Regions from separate parts of the Homo sapiens genome. Here region 2 is linked to region 1. A link means that fine-mapping ties the variant in region 1 to the expression of a gene that starts in the linked region. Tissue or cell type: lung. Region 1 holds a variant in brackets; the other region holds the start of a gene. All regions are shown on one strand. Distances are between the middles of the regions.

The links. PIP is the estimated chance that this variant, and not a neighbour inherited with it, causes the effect.
Region 2: it holds the start of HOPX, and the variant in region 1 is fine-mapped to the expression of HOPX in lung (TOPMed, PIP 0.96).

The regions. Positions count from the first base shown.
Region 1 is chr4:56,724,729-56,732,908 of GRCh38, reverse strand. No RefSeq gene overlaps it. Among named protein-coding and RNA genes, the nearest start is that of CHAER1, 24 kb to the right of the region's middle. The variant C/T (reference allele first, on the strand shown) is at 4,214.
Region 2 is chr4:56,676,967-56,685,146 of GRCh38, reverse strand. HOPX (HOP homeobox) reads left to right here and starts at 3,851. Exons shown (of 4, transcript NM_032495.6): 1 at 3,851-3,892. LOC105377666 (a long non-coding RNA gene) reads right to left here and starts at 1,914. Exons shown (of 3, transcript XR_941078.3): 1 at 1,757-1,914; 2 at 469-623. RefSeq lists a silencer at 3,804-3,853.

The DNA.
Region 1 (8,180 bases):
GCACTTTGGGAGGCTGAAGCGGGCAGATCACTTGAGGTCAGGAGTCCAAGACCAGCCTGGCCAACATGATGAAACCCTGTCTCTACTGAAAACACAAAAATTAGCCAGATGTGGTGGCATATGCCTGCATATGCCTGTAGTACCAGCTCCTCAGAAGGCGGAGGCAGGAGAATTGCTTGAACCTAGGAGGCAGAGGTCACAGTGAGCCGAGATCAGGCCATTGCACTCCAGCCTGGGTGACGGAGACTGTCTCAAAAAAAAAAAAAGAAGAAGAAGAAAAGAAAAACATGTGTAGAAAGGGAGCTTCGAGGCTTTTGAGGTCTAGGCAAGGAACTTACAGGGAAAGGGGAGTAACTGAGGAATTTTGAGTGGGGAAATGGTGTGATCAGACTGGTATTTGGGAAGATTAGACTGACAGTGGCATGTGACCTGGACCGAGACTGGAGAGAGGTGGAAAGTTGGGGGTGACTTCATGGACAGTTGAAGTGAGTCTGGGCAGAAATTATGAATGACTGTGGGCAGCAGGAATGGATAGAGGGCCTATGGAGATGCTTTGCTGAGGTGGCCATCACATCCAGGATTTAAAAGTCTGTTCCCTTGTTTTACCTTGAGAGAAAGTGAAGTGTGGCTCTAATCTTTCCTGGAGTGGCTCTCACAGCCTTTCTGTGAACAGACTCCGGGCTTGGAAGCAAAGCGTGGATCCTGGGTCTGAGGCTGGCAGCAGGGCTTGGAGAGCTGGAGGCATCTGCCACCCTCCCCGGCCCTCCATGAGCTTTCCCCCCCCCCGTTCGCTGCTTCAGAGGAAACACCAGGCTGAGCTGGATTGCAGAAGTAAGCTTCCCTGCCACGCCCAAGGCCCTCTGTGCTGTTGGGTCAGCCCCACTCTGCCTGGCCCCCTGTCTGCAATGATAAGGACATAGCACCTCAGTCATGCATCTCTGGGAATGTGACAAAGACAAGGATAATTAGCTATGTGTTCCCATTCGACCGTCTTTTCTCTCCTCCATCCCCAGCAGCTAAAGAGAAGTTCTCCTAATTTGCTCAGCTTCTCCCTCTTCCCTACTCTCCAAAGAGAATTCTGTCTTTGCTGGTTCTCTGTTTTTCTTATGATACAGAAATAGACATAGAGAAGGCAGACTTGAGAGTTAGGAGGACAAGGGGTAAAATTCCTGGTGGCTTGGGTCAATTCTAGGATCACCCTTTTGTGTATAAAAAGGGGCTACATGAACAGGATACTAAAGAATGAAGCCAGAAGACAAAGTCAATTTATATCATAAGGAGCTAAGAGAGAAGTATGGAAAAAAGAAAATAAAAAATAATCTGGGCTGGGTTTCAGGGAACATTCGTAGAGGAAAGCTACCAAATGAAGGGCTCTGAGAACCAAAATGTGCTGCTGTAGGTTATAGGTTAAATCTTTTTTAATGCCAATTAAATGTTGGAATTTTGTTTTGGTTGCTTAGCTATGTTTTTTTTTGTTTGTTTGTTTTTGTTTTTTTGAGACGGAGTCTCACTCTGTCGCCCAGGCTGGAGTGCAGTGGCGCGATCTCAGCTCACTGCAAGCTCCGCCTCCTGGGTTCACGCCATTCTCCTGCCTCAGCCTCCCGAGCAGATAGGACTACAGGCGCCTGCCACCACGCCCGGCTAATTTTTTGTACTTTTAATAGAGACGGGGTTTCACCGTGTTAGCCAGGATGGTCTCGATCTCTTGACCTCATGATCCGCCCACCTCGGCCTCCCAAAGTGCTGAGATTACAGGCTTGAGCCACCCTGCCTGGCCTATGTTTTTAATGTTTTATTTTAATGTCACAGTGTGCCAGACTGGACAGTATTGTATTCCAGCTTATATGTGGGTTATTGAATAGCATAATGGTTCACATCAGGAATTCTGGAACCAAACTCCCAGCTCCCAAATCCTACTTCCACCACTCAATAGCTGTGTTACCTTTGGCAAGATATAGTACTTGCTTCTCTGTGGCTCAGTTGCTTTGTCTGTAAAATAAGTTAATGAGAGCCTCTACTTCGGAAAATTGTTATGAGGATTAAATGAGTTACTATTTGTAAAGTTCATAGAAAGCTCATGCAAAGCCTGGCATGTAATTGGCGCTATAGAAGCATTAGCTATTATTAGTACAGGGACATCTAAGGTTATGAGATTTTTCTGTCTTGGTTCAACCAAGGTGGTGAAGACAACTGTCAGAAGAATTATCTTCAGCAGAGCAAATCTTAAGTTTAGGGAAAGTTTGGGCTGGGCACGGTGGTTCATGCCTGTAATCCCAGCACTTTGGGAGGCTGAGGTGGGCAGATCACTTGAGACCAGGAGTTCGAGACCAACCTGGCCAATATGGTAAAGCCCTGTCTTTACTAAAAATATAAAAATTAGCTGGGCGTGGTGGCACATGCCTGTAACCCCAGCTACTTGGGAGGAGGCTGAGGCATTAGCATCACTTGAACCCAGGAGGCGGAGGTTGCAGTGAGCCAAGATTGCTCCACTGTACTCCAGCCTGAGTGGCAGAGTGAGACTCTACCTCAAAAAAAAAAAAAGTGACATCTGGTCATCATTGTCATATTCTATGAGTTACAGATAAGTCACCAGGTGCAGCCCACATTCACAGTGAGCAAATCACACAGGGGTGAGTGCCTGGAGGCGGGGCTCATTGGGGACCACTCAGGCTGGAGTGCAGTGGCATGATCTCACCTCACTGCAACCTCTGCTTCCCGAGTTCAAGCAATTCTCCTGCCTCTGAGTAGCTGGGACTACAGGCACACGCCGCCATGCCCTACTAGTTTTTTGTATTTTAGTAGAGATGGGTTTTCACTGTGTTGCCCACGCTGGTCTTGAACTCCTGAGCTCAGGCAATCCACCTGCCTGGGCCTCCCAAAGTGCTAGGATTATAGGTGTGAGCCACTGCGCCTGGTCTCACTTTCTTGATTTGGTTACAAAAGGTTGTGACTTCACTCTTGCTCGCAAACTCTCTTCGAGTCTCTTGCTAGATTTTTTTTTTTTTAACAGTGTCTCGCTCTGTTGCCCAGGCTGGAGTGCACTGGTGCCATCATGGCTCACTGCAGCCTTGTCCTTCTGGGCTCAAGTCGTCCTCCTACCTCAGCCTCCCAAGTAGCTGGGACCACATGCACTTGTGCCATCATGCCCAGCTAAAATTCTTAAATTTTGTAGAGATGAGGGCTTGCTGTGTTATCCAGGTTGTTCTTGAATTCCTTGGCTCAAGTGATCCTTCTATCTCAGTCCCGCAAAGGGCTGGCGTTACAGGTGTGAACTGCCATGCCTAGCCTCTTGCTAGCTTTGATGAGGCAAGCTGCCATGCTGGAGAAGCCCCTATGGTTAGGTACTGAGGCCAGGCTGTGGCCAACAGCTTAAAAGGAATTGAGGCCTTCGGTTCAGTAACCCCTGAGGAACCACTGAGTGAGTTGCAAATGGATCCTGACTCAGTTGAAAATTTGATGGCAGCCTTGTGAGACATCCTGAAACAGAGATCCCAGCTAAGGGATCCTGTCCAGATTCCTGACCCCAGAAACTGCAATAATAAATACGTGCTGTTTTAAACCATTATGTTTAGAAGTAATTTTTTACACAGCAATAGATAACTAATACAACCATGTACCAAAGTAAGAACTTGGGAGTTGGATTAAGGGCAGAGGTTCAGCTCCAGGACATCAGGGTGGAAGTAGGGGAGGGCTTGTGGGAGAGAGCCACTATAGAAAGAGCATCCCGGCCAGGCGTGGTGGCTCACGCCTGTAATCCCAGCACTTTGGGAGGCTGGGCAGGTGGATCACGAGGTCAGGAGTTTGAGACCAGCCAGACCAATATGGTGAAACACCGTCTCTACTAAAAATACAAAAACTAGCCGGGCGTGGTGGCACGCGCCTGTAATCTCAGCTACTCAGGAGGCTGAGGCAGGAGAATCGCTTGAACCTGGGAGGTGGAGGTTGCAGTGAGCCGAGATCGTGCCATTGCACTCCAGCCTGGTGACAGTGTGAGACGCAAAAAAAAAAAAAAAAAAAAAAAAAAAGGAAAGAAAGAGCATCCCCTGGTCCCACCCCAGGTCCTAATGGGGAGGAGAGTGACTCAGGCTGCGCCCTTCAAGATGGCTGGCAGCTGAGGCTGTTTTAGTGCTTCCTGTTTCAACTGCAGATCTGTCTGGGAACACTTCGTTCTCATCTTGCATCATTGGCCTCCCTCCAGCACTGGAGTATGTAC[C/T]TTCTGGAAATGCCTACTTATCTTTATGACACCAGTCTCTTCGTTTGTTTATTCATTCATGCAACAACTATGAGCTGGACACTTTTCTATATAGAGTGGATCCACCACGAATAAGAAATCACCCTCACACAGTTAAGAGCTTCTTCTGGCTTAAGAATTCCCATCTTTTTTTTTTTTTTTCTGAGACAGAGTTTCACTCTTTTTGCCCAGGCTGGAGTGCAATGGCCTGATCTTAGCTCACTGTAACCTCTGCCTCCTGGGTTCAAGTGATTCTTCTGCCTCAGTCTCCTGAGTAGCTGGGATTACAGTCACCCGCCACCATGCCCGGCTAATTTTGTAGTTTTAGTAGAGACGGGGTTTCGCCAGGTTGGACAGGCTGGTCTTGAACTCCTGACCTCAAGTGATCTGCCCGCCTCGGCCTCTCAAAGTGCTGGGATTATATCTGTGAGCCACCGCGCCCGGCCGAGTTCTCATCTTTGAAATTGCTCCTCTACCTCCTTCACTGGGGTGCCATTTCATCACACACCCCTTAAAGACTGGGGTTCTCCATGGCGTTGTTCTTGTCTCTAATTTCTTCTCACCTCACACAGTCCTTCCTGGTTGTTCCAGACTTCATGATTCCTTAATCACTTCTAATGATTTGAAATCTACATCTCTAGCTCAACAATCTTTCCGAAAGTCACACTGTAGGGCTACTTACATATTTCATAGACACTTAGATCTGGGAAGAGCATTGAACAATAAGTAAGTAAATAAGTACTGAATGGTAAGTAAGATCTGTTCCTGTGCTGAAAACCAAAAGTGCCAGATTAATTGAGAAATTGAATATCTGCACACTGTCTTATATAGGCATTTTAAGGAATTTTCAGGGGGCTAATTTTAACTTTATGTGATTTATACAGTATGGGATGACTTCACTAAATTAGAAGCTCAAACGACAAAAATTAAACTCATTTCCTCCATCTCTTCCTTCTCTTGTCCTGCCCAAACCTTCCTTTTTTCCTATCTTTCCTCTCCTAAATAACAGTACCATCATCCACCCAGACAATATATGGGGTCATCCAAATTCTTCCCCCTGGCTTTCCCTGACCTCCTCCAATCTCATTAAGTCCTGTAGAATTTACCTCCTAAATACTTATTTCCTTTTCTCCATTATCACTGTCCTGGGCTCATTTTAAGCTTGCATCTTCTTTTGCCAGGTCTAATGTAATAACCTTCAAACTGATCTTCCTGTATCTAGGCTCACTCCCTGTGCTTTGTCCTTCACACCGGTACCAGTGCAGTGTTTCTCATTGCTGAACTGTAACATTCTGGCTCAAATCCTGTAGTGCTGCCTCCCACTGTCCACCCAGTAAAGTCCATATTCATTCACTTGGTGTTTGCAACCCTTCGTAATCTGACCCCGGCTACTTCTCAGCCTCATCTGTAGCTGCTTCTGCACACAAACTCTATGCTCTGCCCACAGGATTTGGAGTCTTCCTGCCATACTGTGGCTTGCTCCCTTTTGCTTGTAAGGCCCTTGCTCGACCTTGTCTACCAGGTGGACTCCAAAGTAATCCTTCAAGACTCAGCTCACACATTTCCTGGACATTCTCAGATAAAATCGATGTGCCCTACTGTCCTATGCATTACTTTTATTATAGCACTTTTTACACCTTCTTTGCATCCAACTCTTCCAAGTTAGTGTTCTCTGCTTGTCTGGCAGCTCCTTGAAGGCAGAAACCCTGTGTTTTTATCTTAAATTTCAATGATTGGCCCTTCACTAGGCATCCAGTGAAAGTTTGCTAAATGAGCACTGTTCACAATAGCAAAGACATGGAATCAACTCAAATGCCCATCAATGACAGTGGATGAAGAAAATGTGGTACATATACACCATGGAATACTATGCAGCCAGAAAAAGGAATGAAATAATGTCCTTTGCAAGGACATGGATGGAGCTGGAAGCCATTATCCTCAGCAAACAAACACAGGAGCAGAAAACCAAACACCACATGTTCTCGCTTATAAATGGGAGCTGAACAATGAGAACACATGGACACAGGGAGGGGAACAACACACACTGGGGCCTGCAGTGGGGTGGTGAGCTATTTAGCATCAGGATAAATAGCTAATGCATGTGGGGCTTAATACCTAGGTGATGGCTTGATAGGTGCAGCAAACCACTATGGCACACGTTTACCTATGTAGCAAACCTGCACACCCTGCACATGTACCCCAGAACTTAAAATAATAAGATAAAATTAAATTTAAAAAAGAAAGTTTGCCGAATGAATAAGTGAATAGGCAAATGAATAGTGCAGGGCGGAGTCCACAGGTGGAGAGACAAATGGGCCCTGACATTGGGAGCTCTAGAAGGAGACCAGGAGAAGTGAAGCTATTTCTCTTTGTTCTCAGAGCCTGCAGCCCCGACTTATGTTCATCTCTTTGTACATGCACACCTGCCACAAAAACTTCTAATTTGGTGAAGTCATCTCCTGCAGTATAAATCACATAAAGTCAAGATTTGCCCCCTGAAAAGTCCTTAAAATGCCTATACAGGACCATATGCAGATATTCAATTTCTCAGTTAATCTGGCACATCTGGTTTTCTCTTCAGCACAGGAACATATCTATTTCTTCAGCTGGGAAACACATGAAGTAGCTTCCTTGCATTCAGTGGCCCTATGAAAGAAAAATACCTATCACACTCATCACAGTAAGATACTCCTCACTGTGAGAAATAGGAGGAAACAGACTGGGTGAGAGACCAGTTGACTCTCATCTAATATATCTCACTCCTACTCGGGGCTGTATGCACTTGGTAACACCCCATTCCCCTCCTCCACCCCAATCACCCAAATCCCAAGCCCACTCCTTGACTTCAAAGTCCCCGAGGCTGGCTGGTCCTTACCAATCCAACCACATGCCCTGCTCCTCCCCAGGGTCACCCACTGCCAAGTTAGTTCATCTTTCTTCCTGCTCTAGTCCCAACTCTTTCCCACTTCTCTTTGCTTAAGCTCTGTCTTCCCTTTTCCTCTCCCTCTATTCAAATACCACCGACAGGTCAAAGCCCAGCATATTTCAACCTTTCCAAAGGTTCAATTCTCTCCATGTCTACATTGATCTCTCTTATTTTTCAATTCTTTTTACCTTTAGGGTCAGAATCGAACATTTAAGTTAAACCTTTAACTGTTAGTCTATGGAGAATTTTCCATCGCAGGGAGTTTTGTAATTCACTAACAAATATCTGTATCTCTTTGTAGAAGGGTAATTGACAAATCAAGACAAATCAGTAATTAGAAGGACAAAACCATGTTGGCAGACTAGGTAACTATGTAGCAACTGAATTGCCCATACACCTTTTTTTTTTTTTGGTTGGGGGGGACATGGCGTCTCTTCGGTTGCTCAGGCTAGAGGGCAGTGGGGTGCTCTGTGCTCATTGCAGCCTTGACTTCCTGAGCTCATGTGATCCTCCTACCTCAGCCTCCCAGCTAGCTGGGACTACAGGTGCACGCCACCACACCCAGCTAATTGTTTCTATTTTTAGTAGAGACAGGGTTTCACCATGTTGCCCTGGCTGGTCTTGAACTCCTGGGCTCAAGTGATCTGCCCACCTCGGCCTTCCAAAGTGCTAGGATTACAGGCATGAGCCACCGCGCCTCTCTCATACACTTGTGATGAGAGTGAAAACTGTTTGGCAGTACCTACTGAAGCTAAATATTCATTTATCAGCAATACCTACGAAAGCTAAATATTCATATGTCAGCTGGGTGCGGTGGCTCAAACCTGTAATCCTGGCGTTTTGGGAGGCCAAGGCGGGCAGATCACTTGAGGCTGGGAGTTCCAGAACAGCCTGGCCAACAGGGTGAAACCCTGTCTCTACTAACAGGATGAAACCCTGTCTCTACTAAAAATTACCCAGGCGTGGTGGCGCATGTCTGTAGTCCCACCTACTCAGGAGGCTGAGGCAGGAGAATCTCTTGAA
Region 2 (8,180 bases), 48 kb after region 1:
CAAGGATAGGAAAATCCAGCTTCTTCTTGTAACTATTAGCAGTAGCTACCCATTTATGGAGCGCCTACTATGTTCTGGGTATTATGTAAGTGCTTTACATATCTTTAGTCCTTACAACGAACTTGTGAGATAATTCTCATCAGTCCCATATTACAGATGAGGAAACAGAGAGAAGTTATATAAGTTACCCTTGATCAAATTGGTGGTAAGCAGAAGTAGTGGGACCTCATGCAAGTCTGCAGGATTGAGAAGCCCACACTCTTTCCTTTCCACCATTTGTCCAGTCACAGTAAACACTTACTGAAGCCCTTTCCTCCCCCAGGCATTGTTCCTCTCTTGCGGAGGAACATCCCACGACCCCATTCTTCCTCCTAATTCTCTTGATTTGAGCCATTGAAGAAAAGAGTTCCCAAAACCTGTGGCAAGGAAAAGGTTTAGAACAGCAAATAGAAGAAAAATAACACTTACTGTGGGTGGTAATTTGAAGTTTGTTAATCACCAGGGGAAAAAGAACTATGTGAGAATTACCATCTCAGCCATATGTCTCTAGTTTACATAACCCAGGCACTAGCTGGAGCTCTCAGGCAGAGGCAGAGGCAAACATGTGGGATCCTGGAATTCCACTGAAATATAATAGACAACAGGAGGAGCAGGAAAATGAGTCATGTTTTTATAATTAGTTGTGTTATTGGACCCAACTTCTCTAAGAAATCAACAGCATCATCCAATCCCATCTGGCACAGGAGAAGACAAGAGGCTGACAGATTGTGTGATAGTCCCTGGAAATCGGTGGTGATATAAAGACCTAGGATCTAAACCTGCAGGAAAAAAATTAGTGGCCAGCTACCTCCCTTATTTGCAGGCTGTTGAAATACTCTTAATTTTACTGAGAGCCAAAGCAAACTTATCTCACTGGGAAAAAAAAAAAAAAAAGCATAGAAAGAGAGAACTGATATAGTAAAACCCAATTGCCATGGCTGGACTGGTGCCCAAGCATGAAAGAAGTTTAGGTTATTGTATTTTAAAGGATCTCTTAGATTGGCAAAACTGTGGGTAGCACATTTCTGCTTCTTCACTAATAAATGAATCTTGATTTTGTTCAGATGATCAGAGCAATTTGTCTGGAGAAGGTGGATTCTTCCCTTAGACCCAGGAGAGGAACCATGATCAGCCTGATCCCTTTCCTCTTTGAAAATGATGGATTTAGCCAATGTGTTGGCTGACACAACCCAGTGCTCAGCAAGGAGACATAAGTGAAAGACTCCTAGTGATTTCTGAAAAGGTTTTCCTCTCTAACAAGGAAAGACACTTAGGAGAAAGAAAGCCTGGGACACTTTTTACCTGTCTTTGGATATTTTGTTTAAAGATATGATGAATGGAGCTACTGTAGCCATCTTACCACCATGAGGAGAGACAATGCTGTCACACTGAGAGCTACAAAATGAAAGATGGAAAAAGCTAGAGGTCTTGGTTTCATCACTGCACCCCCAATCAACCGGAACCATATACCTGCTACCTGCAGAGTCAAGTGATGTAAAAACTGCTTCATGGTTTCAATCACTTTTTCTTTAATCTCCATGATACACCGGATAAAGAGAAACAGCTTGAAGTTGACACATTATGCAAGAGAAAAAGAAATGTCTCATCTGAACCAGGATGAGACTCTGTTGATGCCAGGACCTCTATCTGTTGGGCTGTACTGCCTCCACGGGAATTTAGAAACTGAACAGATGGCACATATTTATTGAGCACCTACCAAGTGCCAGGCACTGTTCTGGATCACAGGAGTAAACAATGCAGAAAGGTCATTGTTGTCATGGAAATCACATTCTGGAAGACAGATGATAAACAAAAACACAATTAAGGATAGGTGAAAACACTCTTAGGCAACTTTCTAAGTATTGGTTCAAGCCAGTCCTGAGTGAAACCCTGACTCTGGAATCAGATAGAACTGGATTCAAATTCCACCCCCACCATTCACTGTGACCTTGGGAAAGTTATTTAGTCTTTCTGAGTATCAGTTTCCTCTTCTGTAAAATAACGATAATAAAAAAAACTAACTCAGCCGGGCATGGTGGCTCACGGCTGTAATCCCAGCACTTTGGGAGGCTGAGGCAGGAGGATCCCTTGAGCCCAGGAGTTTGAGACCAGCCTGGGCAACATGGTGTAATACTGTCTTTACAAAAAATTAGCCACTTCTGGTGGTGTGTGCCTGTGGTCCCAGCTACTTGGGAGGCTGAGGTGGGAGAATCACCTCAGCCCGGGAGGTCAAGGCTGCAGTGAGCCAAGATCGTGTCACTGCACTCCAGCCTGAGTGAAAAACAAAAAACAATACAACCTCATAGGGTTATTGTATTACATATTAAATAAGCAGACAAACTCTCTGTACAGTCCTTACATGGAGCCTGACACACAGTCAGTCTTACTAGATTATGGATCATCACCATTGTCATCATCATAATAATTTGTGCTGTCATAGTAATAATTTGTGCAACAACAATAATAATAATAATGCTGTGGGTATCAAATGATAAACAAGACATAGACCCTGCCCATTCAAAAAATCGTGGCAGCAAGAATCCAGATTTGGCCATAGAATGGTCAGAAGTTAGGCATTGAATTAGGCAGGAAACAAAAGAATTCCTCTGGTAACCAAGGTTGGGTTAACCTGGGCCCCCTGTCTCTACTCTTTCCCACACATGTTTTATAACCGTCACCCCCTTTTCCAAGAGGGAAAGAGGTATTCTGAATGAGCGCTGCTCTTCTTTCACATATGGCTACTGTTCCCAAGAGACTCAAGTGGGCTTTCTCTTTCTCTGCTGAAGTGAATAATATAGGGTGTGGCTCTCTGGATGGCACTTACCGGTTTGTGCTACAAACCAGCAAATACACACAGATAATCCCACAGATGATCTCACCAGACCTTGTCTCCCTTCCCTCATTCCCTCAAAATCATACCCACCTAATAATGTTTAGTGCACTGCAATTGAGTATTAGCTCCCGTATCTAGCTAATAAAATACGTAAACATCCAACAGCCGGGTCCTCACACCCACACACATACCCTCGCCTTTAGAAACATTTCCACGGATTGTCACACGAGCCCCTAAACTCTCTGTCACACTCTGCATGCATCTTCCCACAGACTTGCTCACACACTGGCTTTTTATTCGCAAGCCCATGGGGAATCTTTCACCTCTTAGACAGGAATTTCATTAACGAAGGGGAGGGGATGGTAAGAGGAAAGTACAGATGCAGGGGAAATAAATGAGAATCGTTTTTGAGGGAGACCTAAAACTGTATCATCCTAGCCCGAATCTCTCCCTTTTAACTGTTCTTTATGTGTACATTCTGTGCCCAAAAGAAAACAACCTTTCATTAATTGGGCAATTGTCCAGGCTCTTAGCTTGGCATCCAGCTCTCAGAGCTGTGAAATCAACCGCACCAGATCTACGCTTTGAAATGAGGCAACATCTAACTGGAAACTCGCTCAAAGTAAGGAAGTGGATGAGAAGACTCAGGGTCCCTTTTCTCTTCCCCGTCTTCTCTCAGCCACATCTCTCTTATCCTATCTTGGTGAAGAAGCTTGCTTGGCTAGGAGAGAGGTCAGGGACGAGAAGATAGTGACGAGAAAGTTCCATGAGACTCTCAGAAGTCCCAGCCTGAACATCAAACCTGAATAACCAGGAGAGACGTAACCTCGGCATACTTTCAGTGGTTTACCTCCTGCCCACGCTGCAGGTTTTTCAGGTCCTTGCTCGAGTGTGTGCTCATAGGCGTAAATAAACGTGCTATCAGCAGCCTGCGTCAGCCAGCCCAGCTATTTAAGCAGGCTGGCATCAGCAAACACAGCTTCCAAACCCAGGGCTTGCGCTTGCCTTTGCCTCTTCCACGTAAGTACCTTTCAAAGGTCTGCCTTTTATGCAGAGGAATGAGTTTGTGCAGGAACTAGACCAAAATGCTATCGTTACCGTATTTGCTCATCTGTTGGAAAACGGTAGAGGTGAAAGGGAGAATAGGAATGACAAGCTTACCCCCAAGCAGAAGCTAGGAAATGCTGCTGGGTGTAAGACATCAGTCCCTTACAAACAAAACTGCATGGGGTCGAGGGGAATTTGGAGGAAGGGGAGTTGGTGTTGGTCTTTTGGCCAAGCAGGTGAGATGTTTTTCTTACTCGCTTCTATTTTGGAAAGATAACTTTGAAACCAGCATTTGTCAGATGCCTATGATTTTCTCATTTAGAAGCAGATTATTGTTATTCTACATCCCAGACTTTTATCTAAAATCAGACATAATATCGTTTTAAAATATGTTTTGTGTTTGACAAGGGGAAGTGAGGGAGCTGTCTCTGGATGGAGAAGTGGCTTGATTTTGAATTTGCAGTTTATTGTTACTTCTGGTTCTCATAATACTTATTTATAACAACAAAAACAGTGATTTTTTTTTTTTGAGATGAAAAGGAATCCCAGGCTCTGGGGTTTAGAGAAAGTATAGGTTTGTGATATGTGAGTGGCATCCAAGTATTCAGGGTAAACTGTTAAGTAAAGTGGAATAAGAATCATTGAATAAAAAGGTACAATCTATCACATAGTTCAGATAAGAAGCTCTTAAAGAGAAAAGGAATGCAAACAGTTCCCATGAAGTGGCACTGCTACTGGACAGGGCCCTGTAGTGTGTTTAGTTAAGTAAGGTTAAGTATAACCAGGGCAGGCAGAGAACAAAACGAAGGTGCTGGGGAGGTGGGAAGGGAGGAGAAGGGAGGAGCAGATAGTAAAGGATTTATAATTAAACAACAGATTCATGAAAAGCAGATAGGAATAGAGCAGGGCATTAATTCCATAGTCTATCCCTTTGTATCAAGAATCTGGTGAAAGCCAAGGACCTTTCTCAGGTATTCATTCCTCGCTTCCTGAGCCTCCCCTTCCACCCCACACCCCAACCCACACCTTGACTCTCACTTTCTGGACTCCTAGAAGTCCACGGACCTAAATGAAGCTCATATGCTTATTATTATTTTTTTTTAACTGGGCTGAAGCTGCCGACTGAGGAACCTCTCCAGAAGTGGTGGCGAGTTAAAAACCTTCAACGTGGCAGGCACTTCTTAGCCACCAAACTGAAGCTTGGTTTTAAGTTCATGAAGGTCTTATGTCAATCAAGCAAATAATGATTAAGGGCTATATCTGAGAAAAGATAAGTTGAAGGCCAAGAGGAAGAGAAAAGAAAAAATGGATCTTGTTCTCAAAGAGCTTGAAATCTAAAGTCCAGGGAGATAATTAGATGTTATGTCCATGCACAAAATAGGATGTGTTGAGTGATTACATTTGTATAAAATGATAGAAAATGCAAACTAATCTATAGCAAAAAGAAAGTGGCTGGGTGCGGTGGCCCACGCCTGTAATCCCAGCACTTTGGGAGGCCGAGGTGAGCGGATCACTTGAGGTCAGGAGTTTGAGACCAGCCTGGCCAATATAGTGAAACCCCGTCTCTACTAAAAATACAAAAATTAGGCGGGCTTGGTGGTGGGCACCTGTAATCCCAGCTACTCGGGAGGCTGAGACAGGATAATTGCTTGAACCCGGGAGGCGGAGGTTGCAGTGAGCTGAGATTGTACCACTGCGCTCCAGCCTGGGCGACAGAGCAAGATTCTGTCTTAAGAAAAAAAAAAAAAAGAAAGAAAGAAGATCCATGGTTACTTGGGAAGGTAGGGGCAGGAGAAAAAATGTTTGGGGGGACTCCCAAGGTACACAGGAAACTTTTGAGGGTGATGGATATGTTCATTATTGTGACTGTGACCATTTCTTATATGGGAAGATTTATCAAATTGTGTACTTTAAACATTCAGTATTATAGCTGATTACTCCCAACAAACAATACTTTAACCACATTATTTTTATTTTTATTTTTTTGAGATAGGATCTCACTCTGTCACCCAGGCTGGAGTGCAGTAGCACGATCTCGGCTCACTGCAGCCTCTGCCTCCCAGGCTCAAGCAATCCTCCCACCTCAGCCTCCCAAGTAGCTGGGAACACAGACTTGTGCCACCACACCCAGCTGTAGAGATGGGGTTTTGCTATGTTGCCCAGGCTAGTCCCAAACTCCTGAGCTCAAGCGATCTGCCTGCCTTGGCCTCCCAAAGTGCTGGGATTACAGGTGTGAGCCACTGTGCCTAACCAACAATATAATTTTTAAATAAGTAAAAGCATTTCTAAAAATCAGCCTATGTAACATGCTGAACATAAAAGATGAGTATTTATGGAGAAAAAAATAAATTCAGTAAAGCACAGAGACCAGACAGTAAGGATCATAGACTTTTATAGAACTGGGAGGGTCCCTGGAGATAATCTAACCTAGTGGTTGTGGGGCCTGGAGAACTTAAAAAAGAAAAAAAAAATCAGTGACTGGGGCAGGGCATGGTGGCTCATGCCTGTAACCCCAGCACTTTGAGAGGCTGAGGCGGGTGGATCACCTAAGGTCAGGAGTTCGAGACCAGCTTGACCAACATGGTGAAACCTCATCTTTACTAAAATACAAAAATTATTCTGGGCATTGTGGTGAGCGCCTGTAATCCCAGCTACTTGGGAGGCTGAGGCAGGAAAATCGCTTGAATCTGGGAGGCAGAGGTTGCAGTGAGCGGAGATCGTGCCACTGCACTCCTGCCTGGGTGGCAGAGCAAGACTCCGTCTCAAAAAAAAAAAAAAAAAAAAAAAAATCAGTGACTAGGCCCCACCCTGGACCAATTAAATCAGAATCCCCAGGTGTGCAGCCCTGGGATTGGTTTTTAAAGTTCCCCAGGTGAGTCTAATGTGCAGCTAGGGATGAAAACCAGTGAAATCAAAACCATTCACTTGACAGATAAGGACAGTAAGGGCCAAAGAGAGGATGGGGATGGCCCCATGCCACCTGACCACCAAGTCCGAGAGTAGGATGAGGCTTGGGAGGCTCAGGGAACACAGCAACAGAGGCTCAAAGGTAAAGAAAGAGGCTGCTTCTGGACACTCCCAGCTCCAGCGAGGATAGGGTATCCAGCACCTTCCAAGCGAATCCTTGGAACCCAGACATGCTGCGGGGCAGCAAACTAGAAGAATTACTCAGGGCCTCCAAGGTGCATTATTAAAGGATTGTGCTAATGAGTGAGAAGGGATGTTTCAAAACTAAAGCTTCCTTTTTTTCCCGATTAATATCTGGCATAAGTAGAGGATTCTAATTATTGAAAGGAATCCCAGTGTACACACTGGGCACTCTGTTCTGGGGGACAGCCAAGTTGTTCTTTCAAGAAATAGCATGTGTGCATTCCCAGCACTGGGATGAGTCTATCTGGCAGTCCAGGGTCTTTTAATTAGGACTTCCAGGTCAGGCCCAGGCAAAAGCATGAGTGGGTGAAGTTTGTCGTTGTGACTTCTGTCCTTCCTGTCTGTGGCTCCTTAGCTCTCCCTCAGCACCTGTATGGGTGCAGGTGTCAGTTCAGAGGTGTCTGTGGGACCACAGAGCCTCACCGGCTCCACCCTGGCCATGTTTCCAATTGGTTTTTACCTCCCCTTCAATCCAAATGTGCCACTTTCCAGGTCTTATTCTCTCAGGGCTTGTTTTCTCCATCTCTGGAAAACTAATTAAAATTAGGATGTTAATAGACAATAATCGTTTAATGAATTATGTCACTCCCTGGTATAGTAAGTAGGTTCCAGCAAGATAACATATCTAGGAGTTCCTTGAAATGTTATATATAGTTACCATTTGAATTTTTAAGTGGGGCAATCAGGCAAATCAAAGTTTTATGCAAAATATGTGCTCCTTATTGGTCAGAATTCCAAGCAACTTGCTGGGCAAAAATATACCAAGATTGTGGGTTTTCAGTATAATTTTTCAAACCATATCCAGTAGGCAACCATCTATAGGTTGTGGGCCCTGTTAGATTGTTTTTTCTAAATTAGTCCATTTTTTGTCAATGCAGTTGAACTCATCAGAAGTAGCTGCATTTCCTGTGTCTTTCTGAAAAATGGAGAGCCACCTTAAGGTTACTATAATGGAGACAAAATGTCAAGAAATTCTGCTCATAAGGATTTTAGAATATTACCTGCTTCTTTCTCAGGAGCAGAAGGCTGGCACCAGCAGAGTAGCTTGCCTAGTATTAGTGGCCAGGAGCCTCATTCTTTGGGGACCCAGTTGTGCAGCTGGGGCAGCCCC